2 separate regions of the Homo sapiens genome follow, and region 1 is linked to region 2. A link means that fine-mapping ties the variant in region 2 to the expression of a gene that starts in the linked region. Tissue or cell type: whole blood. Region 2 holds a variant in brackets; the other region holds the start of a gene. All regions are shown on one strand. Distances are from middle to middle.

What was found. PIP is the estimated chance that this variant, and not a neighbour inherited with it, causes the effect.
Region 1: it holds the start of AK5, and the variant in region 2 is fine-mapped to the expression of AK5 in whole blood (INTERVAL, PIP above 0.99).

The regions. Positions count from the first base shown.
Region 1 is chr1:77,278,270-77,286,366 of GRCh38, reverse strand. It overlaps AK5 (adenylate kinase 5), which reads right to left and starts at 4,348. Exons shown (of 14, transcript NM_174858.3): 1 at 3,994-4,348. The coding sequence starts at 4,053. RefSeq lists a silencer at 4,429-4,488.
Region 2 is chr1:77,427,690-77,435,797 of GRCh38, reverse strand. All of the region lies in intron 8 of AK5 (adenylate kinase 5), which reads right to left. It overlaps LOC124904202 (a long non-coding RNA gene), which reads left to right. Exons shown (of 2, transcript XR_007066178.1): 2 at 2,611-3,065. Among named protein-coding and RNA genes, the nearest start is that of AK5, 150 kb to the right of the region's middle. The variant A/G (reference allele first, on the strand shown) is at 3,795.

The DNA of each region.
Region 1 (8,097 bases), 150 kb after region 2:
GTTTAAAATGGAAGAGCCATTCACTTCATCACAGTGAGATAAAATGCAGCATGTGAAAATGCCCCTGGTCATTATTTATCTCACTCCTACCCACCCTTTATGTCTCTAAACCTCAGTTTCTTCTTTTAGAAAATGGGGGTAATAATAAATACCTCATAGAGTTTTTTAAGAATTAAATAATTTCATATTTGTACAGTGCATATTAAATGCTTGGCACATAGTAAGTGCCCAATAAACTTTGTTGGTTTTAGTTATTATTACTATCAGGAAGTCTTCTCTGAATCCCTAGGTTTGTCTGTGAACCCCTTCTTCTGTGTTCCCATGGTATCCAGCATAAAACATCATACTTGTCATTTATACTGAAACCATTCGGTTATGCAATAGTCTTTCTTCTAAACTATAAGCTCTTCAACAACACAGAGTGAGTCTAATTCATTTTTCAATCCCCAGATACTGATGCTTTCCCTGGCATTTGGTAGGTGCATATTTAACTGTTTTCCAATTGGAAAAAAAAAATCCCTCAAAGCTCAAGTCTAACTGAGACTCAAAAAAATTTAGGTCTGAGACTAAAAAAAAAAATTACTATTTGACATAGAGTAAGTCACTACGATATCCACTGAGATTCCAGAGGGGAAAAGAAACAAAGCATGATCCTGCTATTACTTTTTTGGTTCATGGTGTCTGATGTGTCACTGGCACTAGATTCTAAAAATGCTACCAGTTTGGAAATGCTGATTCCTGGAAGCTGGACTGATGTGCAAAATATTTTCCTTTAGAGTATTTCATGGAAAATGCATAAAGGATTATTCTTACCAATATACATTGTTAGTATACAAAACACCCTTTGAAGGGCTGACATCTGTTTAAATACAGTATTTTATTTTCAATTATTTCCTGTGTAATTTCCTCAGAATGGTAGGCAATTCTCACTAGGTACATTTGTTTTCTGAAATCCTAAATAGAGTAAGCTAGAGTGTGCACCTCCATCAGCCAAGTTCAATTGCAGAGGGAGCAGAAAAAATTACCCGGGCATCCAATTCAGTTTGTTTGTCAAAATCTGTCCCATATACACACACATTGCAGTTGAGCTTCTCACATTCTTCCCATACGCCAAGCCAGTATTAGCCTCATTAATAAATAAAAGCCTCTGTGTCATATATTTATTTGCATACCCAGTGCATTCTCAGCCCTGTGTGACTTTATTATCCCCATTTTATAGATTAGGAAATCATGGCTCAGAGATATTAGTGATGGCTCTAGTTTACTCAACTAGAAACTCCTAGGCCCAGGATTTCAATTCAATGTTTCCAATTCCAAAACCCATATGTTCTTCTCTGTACCTGTTGCAGAAACGTGATATGAGATAAAAGAAAACATGAGATTCTCTGTGCCCTCTGCAAAATGCCCTCTTTTTATCCCTACTATTGCCTGAAATGGGTGAACACTCTCAATGACTCTTTTCTGAAAATATACATTTCCAGCGTCCTTAAACAATACTGGTTCACCAAAGGGCATTGATTTTAAAATGGGACAATGAGCTCCATTCCTTCACGGATAATTCAAATCTTTTCTTCTAATAGCCAGCCACTATCAGGGATTGAAGACAACCAGCACATATTATTGCTCAGTCTCTGAGTGAACCCTTTGAGACCTTGAATAATCTGACTTTCCACAGTATTCAAATTGATTGCCAAATCTCTGCTGTAAGCTACAAGATCAATATACACACCATAAGGTTAGCCAGAATTAAGAACTCATGACAAAATAATAAGAAAGTGGGTTTAAAAAAGTCTAAAACTGGAAACACATTTCAAACATGAACGTACCAGAGATATCCCATATTCCATTTAGCTTACATGATGTCTCAAATTAGGAAAAAATCTGAAAAGGTCAGTTAGATATATTTACTTGTCTGACAATACGTCAATACAATAATCAGTCAGTTTGTCTGTAATAGCGTCTAAAATCCACAGCTGGGGCCAATGTCTTGGTGTTTAGTAGACAGCTAATTGTTAAACTTTGTACACCTAAAATATTGTGGTGGGCAAAATCCATTTTAAAAACCTAAAGTTTTTAGTTTTACAGTCTACACTAATCACATGGAGAACTGCCAGATTTTCCTTCCCTCTTGAGCTGCGCATAGCACAGATTCGTCTTACTGAAGGATGTAGCCTTTGAGGTCACCAGCAGTCTACTTCCATCTTCTCATTGTCCACAAGTGAATCTAAGTCCATTACTGTATTTCACCCAAGCAAGTTGACTTCCTTTTCTGGGTGTGCATTATTTATCCCATTCATATGCAGAAAAGTAAATAAGAAACATAAAACCTTAACAAAAAGGCCTGCCATAACTTATTTGCATGCACAGTGTAGATTTTAATAAACTATCAAACTTCTCTGTGGTTACCTTCCACCAAGGAGGAAAAACAGTACCCACATTTACAAAGAAAAAAAGATGTACTATGTAGGAATTTTTGCAATCACGTGGTCCTCCTACAGATGTTTTTAATGATTCTTTTAGAAGCGTAGAAATGAAATATATCTCAGTAGTAATCTTTGTGAGAAAAACCTTCGCCTCTTAATTTCCATATTTACTTTTTGAAAATAAAAACAAACAAAAAAAACAACTCTTAAGATTCCCACATATTCTCAAGACCTGTCCTTATGCAACACCACCTAATTATTTTCACGCAGGAGTAACACATTTGCTAGATTTGGGCTTCACATACCACGCTTGAGTTCAGTGAGTGGTTTACCTGGAAATCTTGACTTCAGATGACCTGAAAACGGTGGCTTATAGAGGTGAGAGAAAAGAAGACCTGTAATTATGGCAACCCATTTTAAAGATAGTTTAGGGAAACTGAGGCAAAATTATTTTCTCAAGTGGTGCTTTAAAATTCCTTTTAACAGAACAAATCCCCCAAACCGGGGGGAAAAACCCTCATGACCTTTAGTTTACGATATCAGTCTATCCGTTTTCAGAAATGGGGAACGAGGTTTGCAGTGAATGGATTTCTCCTTTCAGAGCTCGCTTAGGAAGCCTGGCTTGCTTCTATTCTTTTCTCCTCCTCCCCCCTACTTCAAGCAAAAGCACTTGAGATTCAGGAATGTTTTTAAATTCAAATACAAAGAGAAGGAAAGGAAGCCAAACGACCTGAGACAGGGGTTGTGGCTTAGAACAGACCAAGGTTCATTCCTCGAGCCTCCTCTCTCTCAGTCTCCAAGTGTCCCCCCATTCCCGGGTCCCGGTGCAGATGATGCTGTGCTGCGGTCTGAAGACTGAGCAACAGGAGTCCGCCCCCCTCGCAGCTCCCTCCCCGACCCGCTATCTCCAGGTGGGTTGTCGAGCACTGGCGAAACCTGCGGCCCAACCCTTCCTAGGCAACGGGAAAAACGTGCTCAGGAGTTCATTCAGCGAAAGCGCAGAGCAAGGCTGGGGGCCTGTCACCGGGGAGGTGGCACTTGATAGGTTGGGTTTTGCTTTTTGCATCTTCATCCCTCTCTTCCAAGCTGTCTCCAGGAAGGGCTGCCTTCGTCCACATTTCCTCTTTCCCCCAGGGGTTCCGACCCTCGACCAGCAGAGTGACTAGGGCTCTGGCTCCCTCAGTTTCGAGTCTTTACTCGCTGCTGGGCGACAGTGCAGCCACCTGACCTGGCCCTCGCCCCCAGAGAGTGCGGCCCGGCCGCGGTCTGCAGCCCACCCTGGGTGTCCACATCCGAGGGGCGCGATGGGAGCAGGCTGCTTTCAGAACCCTGCTGGAAGACTGAAACTTGATCTGTGAGATGCAGGCTTCTAAGCCCAGCCTTCTGACAAGGACCCTGGCAACCCGCGGGAAAGGCGACTACCCTCGGGGGAGCGGGCGAGTGCGCTTCTACAAGCCCCTTCATTACATGCCCCGTGTGGGGAAGGTGGGACGGGGCGCGGCTGCCTCAACCCGAACCCCTGAGATGCAGTCCCCGGATGCTACCGCCCGTCGGCCAGCTCTAGCCCTACCTCAAAAAGCTGAGGGATTTCCCTCCGGGCCAGATACTCCTTGGCATCGTTGGTGTTCATGGCTGTGCCGCGCGTGCCTTGGGGCGCAAGCGGGGAGGCTCCCGGGCTGCGGCGACCTGAGCCGGGGCTGAAGCTGGGGCTGGCAGAGTCCGCGCCGAGCAGCGGTGCAGCCCTCTTTCTCACGCGCACTCAGCTCAGCCTCTCCGCCCAGGCCAGGGACCCCCTCCGCCTCTCCCCGGGGGCTGTGGTCTCCGCGCTCCCGCCGCCCCCGCTTCGGTTCCAGCCCCCGAGCCGGAGCTGCAGGCGCCGAGCAGCTGTGCCGCGGCTTCCCGGGCTGCCAGGCAGCGCGGCCGCCAGGGGTGGGGCGCAGGGAGCGGAGGAGGGAGGACAGCGTGGCGAACGCAAGGCAGCAGCCGGCCCGCCTCTCCGGTTCAGCGCGCCGCGCTCCGCGCCTCCCCGAGCCGGGTCTGCGGCGGCTGCCGGTCACGCTGCGCGGGCTGGCGCGAGGTGCGGAGGTGGGGGCGGGCACGCGCAAGGGGTCGTAGTCATACCCCTCGGTGCGGCACCGGCGCCAGAGCGCGACGCTTCACTGCGTGCGCCGCCCAGGGATGCAGCTACCGGGGACCAGGTGGCCAAGGGAACAGGGTCGGGGTCTGTAGGAACCTGCGACCGTTTCGCTTCTCCGGACCTTGTACGCACACAGACACACTCGCACGCACATACACGGTTACCTCCGGGTCTCCGAGGAACTCCCAGGAAAAACCTAATAGTCACAGGATTTATCATTTATTCCTAAGGTTACGGATCTTTCACTATAGGGAGCTGTGGGGAAGGGGGAAAAGGGGATTCATGGTGTGGAATCCAACCCTTCAGATAATTTTTAGATCTTGAGTATCTCTATCCTTCAGGAAAGTTTTGCTAGCTGGTTTCGAATTTTTACCCTGTCGGTGTCACAAATCTTTATAGACTTTAGGATAAGGCCTTAGTGTGAGCCTGAAATCCTAATCAACTGAAGGACTAATAAGTAGTCAACTAGTTAATTATCTCCATGGAGAAGAAGGGACAGTGGAGGAGAAAGGTGGGTGGTAGTGGAGAGCTAGAGATGCTTAAATTGCAAATGTGTTTAGTAGGTGGGGAGGGTGGGCATCATTAATTAGACCTGAAGAGTGTGCAGTCCGTGGACAGTGTCGTATCAGAGCACCCCTGGGGGAATATGAGTGAGTATGAGTGGGTGCGCTAAGGCATAATGGTTAATGGATCTTCCTGCTGCAGACCATTGTTAAGGTGTAACCCATCTTCCTCCTAGCTCCCAAGATGACTCAATTCCCTGCTAAGATGTCTTCACATTGCCTATTTGGGAGATAGTCCTTGCCCCCGGAGAATATGATCTCTAACTTCCCACAAAGCCTAACACTGTAGGAGGGTGTGTGAGAGAGGACACTTTGGTAGGCACTGGTATCTGGGGTCTGGCTGGAGAAAGAAGCAACGCTGCCACTGCTTTAAAAAACTATAGAGTCTGAATGTCCATTTCAAGTGCTTCTTTGCAGATCTTTTCTTGGTTCTATTTCTTGTTCCGGAAACAACTGCAGCTCAAGCCTTAACTACAGCTGCAGCTTTGTTTTACCTGAGGGAGTAAATGAACTTTTAGCACTTGTGAACCCGTGTGTCATATGGTTGCCTTAAACGAGGCAGGTATTTCAGTTCCATGGAAATTGGTTTTTGCCCTTAGAATATGCCATTTCACTTACAGTCCCAACTTCTAGTATTTCTTTAGCTTATTTAAGATTGGCTATGGCAGTAGTGAAGGCAGTGTCTCTTCCCTATGCAATGATGCTTGAAAAGTACAATGGTCCGTGGCATTAAGGCTTCCTTTGTGAGCAGGCACAGTGGAGGTGAACACGCAGGAATGAAAAGGCCAGTTTCTCCAGGACTTTTCAAGGTCATCCTTTGCAGACAAGAATCTGGCAGAGCATGGCTCACCTGTCTTCCCTTGAAGAAATGCATAATTCTAAGTGTACTTTAGTGTTACCGGACAAGTGTTGGCAACTTGCTTGTAAAAAGAGAATGGATAAGAAAGACTGCACTGCACTAAAAATTGTAGATAGCCTGAAAAATGTAGTAAATGGTGATACGGCAAGTTTTCAAGTAGCCTTATGCAGAGACAATTAGTGTATTTTGGTGTGTGCCAGGGTGGAGAGAGATGCGTGAAAGAGGAAGATGTTCATAATTACTTTTGCAAAGGAAGTTGTGGCTTTGTAGGGAGGGGCTACATGAGAGAGATATAATGCTTAAAAGCCAAGCTAATGGTTCAAAAGAGAGGAAAGAGAAAGGACAAGGAACACTAAATACATCCTTGCTGTGGGAAAGCTGGCCTCTCATTCCCTGTGATGAAATTCTATGTGTGGGTATATAGAAGGCTCATGGCCCTTGGCCCTTTGTTTATTTGGGAATGCTTTCCTGCAAGCTATAATGAATCAAAATGGTTACTGCATGTCGGATGTCTTCGGATAGACTCTCTTGTCATCACGTCTTGAGAGAGGGTGCTAGGTTCTGAGATATAGCAGTGAATAACAGACATGATCCTTGCTGTCAAGGAACTTAAATTCTATGAAGAGTGTGTGTAAGAAGTGCAGATGAACAATAAGCAAATAAAAATGCATAGACAACATCACATAGTGATTAAAAAATACAAAGAAGGACATAAACAAGAACATATCAGTTAGTGATAACTGATGACGAAAATCAGAGTTGTTGATTTGAAACAAGGGGGCAGAGGCTCCAGGTCTGTTCTGTGGAAGCAGCTGAGGAAATGGGAGTAAGAATAACCATTAGGGGCCGGGCACGGTGGCTCACGCCTGTAATCTCAGCACTTTGGGAGGCCGAGGAGGGAGGATCACGAGGTCAGGAGATCAAGACCATTCTGGCTAACACGGTGAAAACCCGTCTCTACTAAAAATACAAAAAATTAGCCGGGAGTGGTAGCGAGCACCTGTAGTCCCAGCTACTCGGGAGGCTGAGGCAGGAGAATGGCGTGAACCCGGGAGGCGGAGCTTGCAGTGAGCCGAGATGGCGCCACTGCACTCCAGCCTGTGCGACAGAGCAAGACTCCGCTCCAAAAAAAAAAAAAAAAAAAAAAAAAGAAAAGAAAAAGGAATAACCATTGGGATGATGACTAGGACTTCCAAAGGGCTAGGCATCCTTCAGACTCTTGGTGGGAATGTTTCCCTGAGTCATGATAGGTACAGATGAATGGAGGAATAAAATATCTATAGCTGTATCTATAGAATGCTTAGGACTCAGCCAAAGAAATTTAGAAAGGTACCCTAGCAGGAAAAAGTAAACTTTCTATTTTAAAAAACAAATATGTTGAAGTCTTTAAAAATTACACCATGATGGCTTGAAAGAGTAAATGCCATATATAGAGATTCCTGATTTACCATGTAGGAGTATGTTTAGGTGCTGAGAAAATCTAGCTCAAGCAATGTCTTCGTAATGTCTAGAAATATAATGGTGTATAAATACATGATTTACGAGTCACAATGAAAATAGTGTTTTATGATAATTCATTCAGTCAACAGATATTTCTTGTGCATCTCCTGTGTGCCAGGCATCGCTGGCACTGCTGTGCTGTCAGGCGCGTAGGTGAATAAAACACATGCATGGAGCATTTATCTAGGAGCAGGAGATAATTTGCAACAGATATAATAAACAAGTATATGAAATTGTTGTTAGATGGTGATAAATACCATGGGAAAAGGAAAAGTAGAGGAGGGTAAGGAGAACTAGAAGGCTGGCTTCAGTTTTATACAGAGTGGTCAGGGAAGGCCTCATTGAGAAGGTGAAATTCCAGCAAAGGTTTGAGAAAGTGAGAGAGCAACCACTTCAAATGTCCTAGCAAGGGCAGATTCCTGGCACTTTCTGGCAACAGCAAGGAGGCTAGTGTAGCAGGAACAGGGTGAGGAAGGAGAAGAACAGAGAGGAATGGGGCCAAAGCACTTGGGACCTTGTAAACCATTGTCAGTTCTTCTCTAATGGGAAGTTAGAGAAACGTTTCAAGCCAAGACTAATATGATCTGACTTACATTTTAAAAGGCTTCTCTGTCT
Region 2 (8,108 bases):
TATAAAACTAAGATTTTGGTTTCTTATATTAGAACAACAGAGTTTTCTTGAAGTACTAATCTGCTCTTAGTAAAATTTGTGAAAGTCTTTGATTTTTAATTCTGTAAAATTTCAGCCATCTTCTAAACTGCAGCTTCTTTTTTTTTTTTTTTTGAGACAGAGTCTTGCTCTGTCACCAGGCTGGAGTGCTGGCGCCATCTTGGCTCACTGCAACTTCTGCCTTCCGGGTTCAAACGATTCTCCTGCCTCAGCCTCCTGAGTAGCTGGGACTGCAGGTGTACGCCACCATGCCAAGCTAATTTTTATATTTTTAATGGAGATGGGGTTTCACCATGTAGGCCACGATGGTCTCGGTCTCTTCACCCTGTGATCCCCTGGCTTCAGCCTCCCAAAGTGCTGGGATTACAGGCGTGAGCCACCATGCCCAGCCTCTGTTTTACAGTCTATTTACTTTCCCTAGTTTCAAATTAAAAGTGCTATGTTCTTCATTTAGGATGGTAATTTCATTTCTTGAGGTAAAGTTTTCCTCTTGAAGCTTTTCAGATTCATATCTCAGAAGTACAATTTTTGCTGTATCTTGCAGCACAGGATTTGAGGTCATACAACACTGCCTTCTGCTCTTCCTGTCCCTCCTTGAGAGGATACATCTTTTTGCTTGGCTAGGTTGATAACTCGCTCCTTCAACTTTTTCGTCAGCTCCTGAAACTTTTTTCTCTACTTCAAGCTCTGCTGTTATGACCTGATGCTCAAATGTTTGTCTTGAAGCCCTAGAAAAGCAATGTTCCCCTCCAGTATATCTTGATTCTGCAATCTTGGTTTTTCTTGATATGTTTGAATTGTTCCATCTAACCAGGCAATTTCATGTTTTCACTTTTTTAAAGAGCCATGTATTCCTCTGCTCAAGGTACTAGTTTTCTTGTTTACTTCTTCTATGATATGATGTAAACTCATACCACTGGACCCACTCTTCTTGTGTCTGATTAAATTCAAGTAGTTTTTCATCAGGTTAGACTTCCAGGTTATTTAAACGGGCTTCCAGTAAGAAGCAATTATATTGCAGGAAGCTTTTTCTTTCTTTCCCCCTTTTGGTAATTGGCCTAAGATGAAGATTTTTGTAAGTTCCTGTGCTTCACATTGTCTTTATTATGTTTTTTGATTATTTAGGAAAACTGAGCTTTGGAAAGGTTAAGGATTTTTGTTGGTTTGTTTTATATCCATGGAACTTTCTGTATTGTTTTTGAAGTCTTTCTGTAATCTAATTTTGATCAAGTGTTTTCAGCCTCTTGACAGTTTTTGAAAGTTTTCCCTAGGGTCAAGTTCTAAGTTTAATCTTTCTGACCTAAAACTAATTTTGTGATTTTTCCAGTTGGGCCCTGGAGAGCCTCAAAGACTGTATCTCTCAACTTATAGAGATATTAAATGATTAGGTTTACTTAGTAAATTGTATGGGAAGCATTGTCAAACGATAAGTGATGCTAGATCTTTTTTCAGTTACATTTATGAGTATGTTATTGATATGAATGTTCCAAGATCATATAAAACTCTTAGAAATCTAATATATCAGTCAGAATTCTTATTATGTTGTATGCCGCAAAGTAACCAAATTTCCTTGTCAATTTCTGGTTATCATGAACTTTCATCAAATTTTATTTATTTATTTATTTATTTATTTATTTATTTATTTATTTATGCTTTGCACTCTATTTTTCTGATTTCATCAGATTTTAAGCCACGGTTGTTTTCTATCTTTTTGTCATCCACGGTTACTGGTTTGAGTTCTTTTCTAAAGACATACTCAATCAGATTCATGGAAAAGACTCTAAGAAGTAGTCTTAAATATAAGTTTCTAATAACTTTAAGATCAAAGTTATTAGATAATAAAATAAATAAAAATTATGTACTAAATAAAAATTTTCAGAACTCTAATGAAGAAACTAATAAATTTATGAAACTAATAATCAAGCTCAAGCAGGAAAAGAATTAATTACATGAAATTAAATGAACTGATAAAAAATTTTATAGCCTATTTATTTGAAACATTGCTGGTTCTTTTCCTCAATGTTTTGTTTTCCAGATTGAAGAAAACTTTTTGTCTTAAGCCATCTATAGTTTACAGCTGCTTGGTAAAGTAAACATTTGTGAACAAAAATGAAAGCATTTACTTTTTCTTCCTACCTGATCCCTCCAAAATGGGAAAACTATTCATGACAATATGATTGTTTACTTAAGTTTGATAAGAATCTGTTCTCTTTATTATGGGATACAAGTGGAAACATTGGTTTTATCACAAAAGTTTTGACTAAATTGTCATATTTAAATTGTTTATAGGTACTACAGATAAAGTCTGAAGTCAGCTTTGGTTTGGCTTCCTACCCTCAAGAAGTTTTTAAGTTTGAGATTACCGTATGGTCAAATCACTATTCTTGCTGGCAAAATTTGATAAAACTAAACATATTTTACAAACAAATTAGTCTTACTGTGATTATCTTTGGTAAAAATAAGGATGACTATAGAGAGAATGTTATGTTTCTAAAGAAAAAAACTATAATACACCTATTATTAGGCTGTGCCCCTGTGCATTGTTTTCAAGTTCTTCTCTTCTACCTGTAGATCTGATCAGAACCTGAATTCTCCTAATTTTCTTCAATATTTGGCTGCAACTCTCCAACTAAGAGCAAAAACTGCTCTGTGCTTGCCGCCTTAGAAGATGAAGCTAGACAACTTGATATAAATTTCAAGAGACAAGTCTCATACCCGAAAAAAGAAGGACAAGTCTTGTGCCACACAGAAAGTTCACCAATCCACCTGATACCATAGCAGAGAATTCAAACTGCAAGCCAAGAGAAGTTGATGGCTTCATGCTATAGGCAGCGTTTCCCAAGACACTCCATCAAAATGAGACTCTTGCCCCTCTTAATTTTTCCTTTCTTATGCTTACCTTTTTCTTTGGCAAGATAATGATGTAATTCAGATTTCACAATCAGCAGCTTCTGCTCATAACTTAAAAGAACATGACCTCTTAGGTATCTATTGTTTAAATAAAAAAAAGTCTACGCTTCCACTAATACTACATGTTATACTTGGGTAAATTCCTCTGGGGAAGTTGAGGCCCATATCCACAGAATTTTTTAAATGGGTCACACAGTAACAACAGATGTCATCTAATTCTCAATGGTCATTTGCTTTATTCAATTGTTTGTCTTTAAGACTGGATTCATGGCTCAAAACCATTATACAAACTTGGATTTACCATATTACTATTAATTTTATTTTATATTTTTGTTTTTAAAACTTGTACCTGTTGCTTGTTAAATTTCTGCAGAAGTACAACTCCTAACAGAATAATGCTGGCCCAGTGCTTTGAGATTGTGGCCAAAATACTATGGAATAGACAAAACTGAACATAGCAATAAATTCCAGGTAGACTTAGCCTGAGAGCCATTTCCTCCAAGCCTCCCTTGTTGCTCAAATGTGGCTAGAACGCTTTTGACACAGATTCCTACTCACCAATCACGTCTTCTGATATGGGACCAGACCAACAATCTGGGACACATCCTGGCACCAAGGGACAATGAAAATCTAACTACAGGATGATTGAATGGTGATACTTTCAGAAAAAGATCTTGATCAAAAGGGGGGAAATGTGAAAGTTATCAGAATCAAAATAGAGTCACTTGTGTCAACAAGAAAAAAACAAAACCAAAAACAGCTGAAAAACAGTGCTTGGGAAGGCCATAAAGGGAGGATTCTCACGCACAAGTTCTTGATAACAAAACTACCACAAAAAATTCTGC[A/G]AAAACTACAACTTCACACAAAGGCCATCACAACCTTACACAGAAAACACTTCTTTGAGGACATCTGCCCAGCAATTGCCTTTCCAAACTTGGACTGACACCACCTTTGTTACTTATCCTTGTAGCCAAGGATAATTATCTCAAAACTATTATGTAATCCTCCTCATTTTTTTCTTACAAGACCTTTGTCTTCCTTTACCTCCCTGAATACACACATAGTTTACAATGGCACCCATATTCCTATTGCAATGCCCATTTCTGAATAAATATCATTTTCTGTTAGAGAATTTCCCTCTCTGTTATTTAGAATGACACAATTTGCTAGGATCAAATATTCTTTTAAACCAAGAGATAGCACTCTTGATTTAAAAGAGTGACATAGGGTTATATTTTTAAAGAAGTCAAATATGCTTCTAGTGCTTTTGGGCGTTGGCTCCTAATTGTTCTCTACCCACTTCCTTCCTAAACTGCTTAGAATCCTCAGCTCATTACCACTTATACTCTGCCAATGCTTTGCTCTCTGCCTTTCTGAACCACATATTTGCTAAAATTCCATCACTGTGTGAACCAAATTACTGACCTTCTCTGTGTCCTGCTAGAATTCCACAACACTCAGTATAGCGCCTATAAGAGTGTCTGGCACCTAAGGCCACCCAATAAACATTTGCTAAAGGAATGAAAAAAATGAAAATGATTGATTCGTCAAAATAAATTTCTAGTCACTAATGTCAAATGGGCTCTCAATTCACTAATATCAAATGAAATGCTTGGTAATCCTGTTGTGTTTCCTTAGCACATTGCCTGCTAGATTTCACAACAGTTCAGGCTTCTACTCTCTTGAAACCCTGAAATCTCAACAGATGGCTTTGCCTCTGGAAGTCATCTTACAGGAACTCTTTGACTTCCCACCATTAAATATACAAACCCATCCTCCTATCCTATCAATGTTCCTTCTGTCTTAACCCACACGAGACTCTTTTGGTCTCATGCCAGTCTCTCCACCAGGGCTGGAGAACCCAGTCCTACCACATTCAGATAGACTTTCCTCTCTCTTATACTTGTATATTCTCCTTTTCACAAACAAGTAGACCTTTCCTGTGAGTTAAAACATGCTTAAGTGTCTTCACTTTATAGCGCTTTGTAAAGTTCTCAATTTCCTCCGTGTTTCTATATTCAATGATTATTTTCCAGTCTCTCTCTTCCTTATCTTCTCAGCCACATTTGGCACTCCCTGCCTCCTGAAATACTGTTTTCTCTGGCTTTTGGAACACCACATTCTACTGATTTTCCTCATATCTCTCTAATGGCTTCTTCTACGTCTTTCTGCTCTTTCATCTTTCTCTACTAAGACTTTAAATTTCCTCGGTGTTCAGCTATAGAGCCTCTTCTCTCAATTTTGTTTTCTTTCTCTATCTCATCTCCACTCACAAATTCAAGTCCTATCTATATTAAAAAGGCTCACAAATTTGTATTTCCAGCTCAGATATTTCCTCTGAACACCAGACCTATATATTTAATTGCTCACTGAAATTTTCTACTTGGATATGTTAAGGCACTTTGAACTCAGCATGTCTAAAATTACACTCATGCCCTATCTTTACAGAACTCGTCTTTTCTCAGTGAATGCCACCACTGTCTACCCAGCTGTACCAGTTGAAAACCCAGAAGTCATCTTCAACAGCTCACCCCCTGTTGGCTCCCATATCCATTCCAACATGAAGTCCTGTTGACTTTCGTCACAAGTTCTTCTCAAATACACCTCTTTCTCTCTGTCCCCTTTTTTACTCCAGTGTCACCATCAACTCTTGTTTGGACCACTGCAGCCTCCCACTCTGGACTCCATAGATGCCTTGTTTTTTTGTTTTTTTTTTTTGAACTCCATAGATTGCTTTTCTCCAATGTGTTTTCCACATTGCAGCCAGAAAAATGTTTTAAAAAATAAACACAAATATAATTATGTCAACACACTCTCCTCCCTCCTCAGAAACCCCAACTCTTCAAGGTTCCCCATTGCTCTTAGGATAAAGTCAAAACCCCTAACCTGCTCTACAAAGCCCTACTTTCCAGGCTCATCTGCACTCCAGCTATCCTGGTCTTCTTTTGGATGCCATGCTTCTTCCTGCTTCATCCTGCTATTTCCTCTTTTTGAACATCCCTTTCTCTTCTCCCCAGTTCTTTCCTGTTCTCATACATACTTGGTTACCTATGACCAATCTTACAGATCTCAATTCAAGAATCTCTTGCCCGCCAGGTGCAGTGGCTCACGCCTGTAATCCCAGCACTTTTGGAGGCCGAGGCGGGCGGATCACGAGGTCAGGAGATCTAGACCATCCTGGAGAAGACTTTCCTCACCTCACCAACCACATCTACACACAGCACCATGCACTTATTCTCCCAAGTACTTCACAGTTTTAACTTTATTTCTCTGACTATTCTATTCTTGTCTAGTTCTACTATAAGCTCTATGATAGCAGGAACTGTGCCATCTTTTGCCCACCAATGTATCCCCAGCACCTCATATAGAGTCTGGCACATTGAATTTACAAGAAAAAAACAACCCCATCAAAAAGTGGGCAAAGGATATGAACAGACACTTCTCAAAAGAAGACATTTATGCAGCCAAAAGACACATGAAAAAGTGCTCATCATCACTGGCCATTGGAGAAATGAAAATCAAAACCACAATGAGATACCATCTCACACCAGTTAGAATGGCGATCATTAAAAAGTCAGGAAACAACAGGTGCTGGAGAGGATGTGGAGAAATAGGAACACTTTTACACTGTTGGTGGGATTGTAAACTAGTTCAACCATTGTGGAAGTCAGTGTGGCGATTCCTCAGGGATCTAGAACTAGAAATACCATTTGACCCAGCCATCCCATTACTGGGTATATACCCAAAGGATTATAAATCATGCAGCTATAAAGACACACACACACACATATGTTTATTGTGGCACTATTCACAATAGCAAAGACTTGGAACCAACCCAAATGTCCAACAATGATAGACTGGATTAAGAAAAGGCACATATACACCGTGGAATACTATGCAGCCATAAAAATGATGAGTTCATGTCCTTTGTAGGGACATGGATGAAGCTGGAAACCATCATTCTCAGCAAACTATCGCAAGGACAAAAAACCAAACACCGCATGTTCTCACTCATAGGTGGGAATTGAACAATGAGAACACATGGACACAGGAAGGGGAACATCACACACTGGGGCCTGTTGTGGGGTGAGGGGAGGGGGTAGGGGTAGCATTTGGAGATATACCTAATGTTAAATGACAAGTTACTGGGCGCAGTACACCAACATGGCACATGTATACATACGTAACTAACCTGCACGTTGTGCACATGTACCCTAAAACTTAAAGTATAATTAAAAAAATTAAAAAAAAAAGAACTTGGATAGAGCATAAACCTGAAGACAAGCTGCACACCTCCTCCTTTGAAGCTGGTTGAATGGACAAAGGTACAAATAAGCCTAATAATGGAGTGGAAGGCCTGGGCTATCACCTTCATCAGTGTTTTTGGTTTTGGTTTTTCATCCTATGGGAAAAAGTCAGTACTTTTATTGATGGGGCATTTGTTCCTCTGGATAGCTGAAGCTGCAGAAGTGTGGCTTCAGGTTTTGAGAACCTAAGTGATAGTTTTCTCTGTGTTGAGCAGGTATTTTCAATGAACAAAAAAGTACACAGAGAAGAGGAACAGCACACATTTTCCTTGGTGTGACCTTTGTCAATCTGGTGTCATTTTCAGATTTAGTGTGTGGGCTCAGCAACTCTACACACTCTGCTCAGACCATTAGCAGAAGTTTTACATTTTAATGGAGTCCAGATTATGCACTTTTTCTTTTGTGGATTATACCTTTGGTGCTATATCTAAAAAGCCACTGTCATTAATACGATTTGGAGGTTCTGTCCCATCTCATCTCATGTTGAAATGTGACCTCCCCTGTTGGAGATGTGGCCTATGAGAGGTGTTTGGGTCATGGAGGCAGATCCTTCATGAATAGCTTGGTTCTGTCCTTGTGGTAATAAGTGAGTTCCCATTTTATGTGTTCATCTGTGAACAAGGACACTTTTATTTATTCCTTCTTAATCTATATGCTTTTTATTTTCTTGTCTTATTGCATTAGCTTGGGCTTCTATGTATAATGCTGAAAAGCAATGGTGAAAGGAGACATCCTTGCCTTATTTCTTTTCTTAGCAGAAAAGCAGGAAAGCTTCAAGTTTCTCATCATTAAGTATGATGTTAGCTGTAGGCTTTTTACATATGTTGTTGATGATTTTCACATCTGCACTTA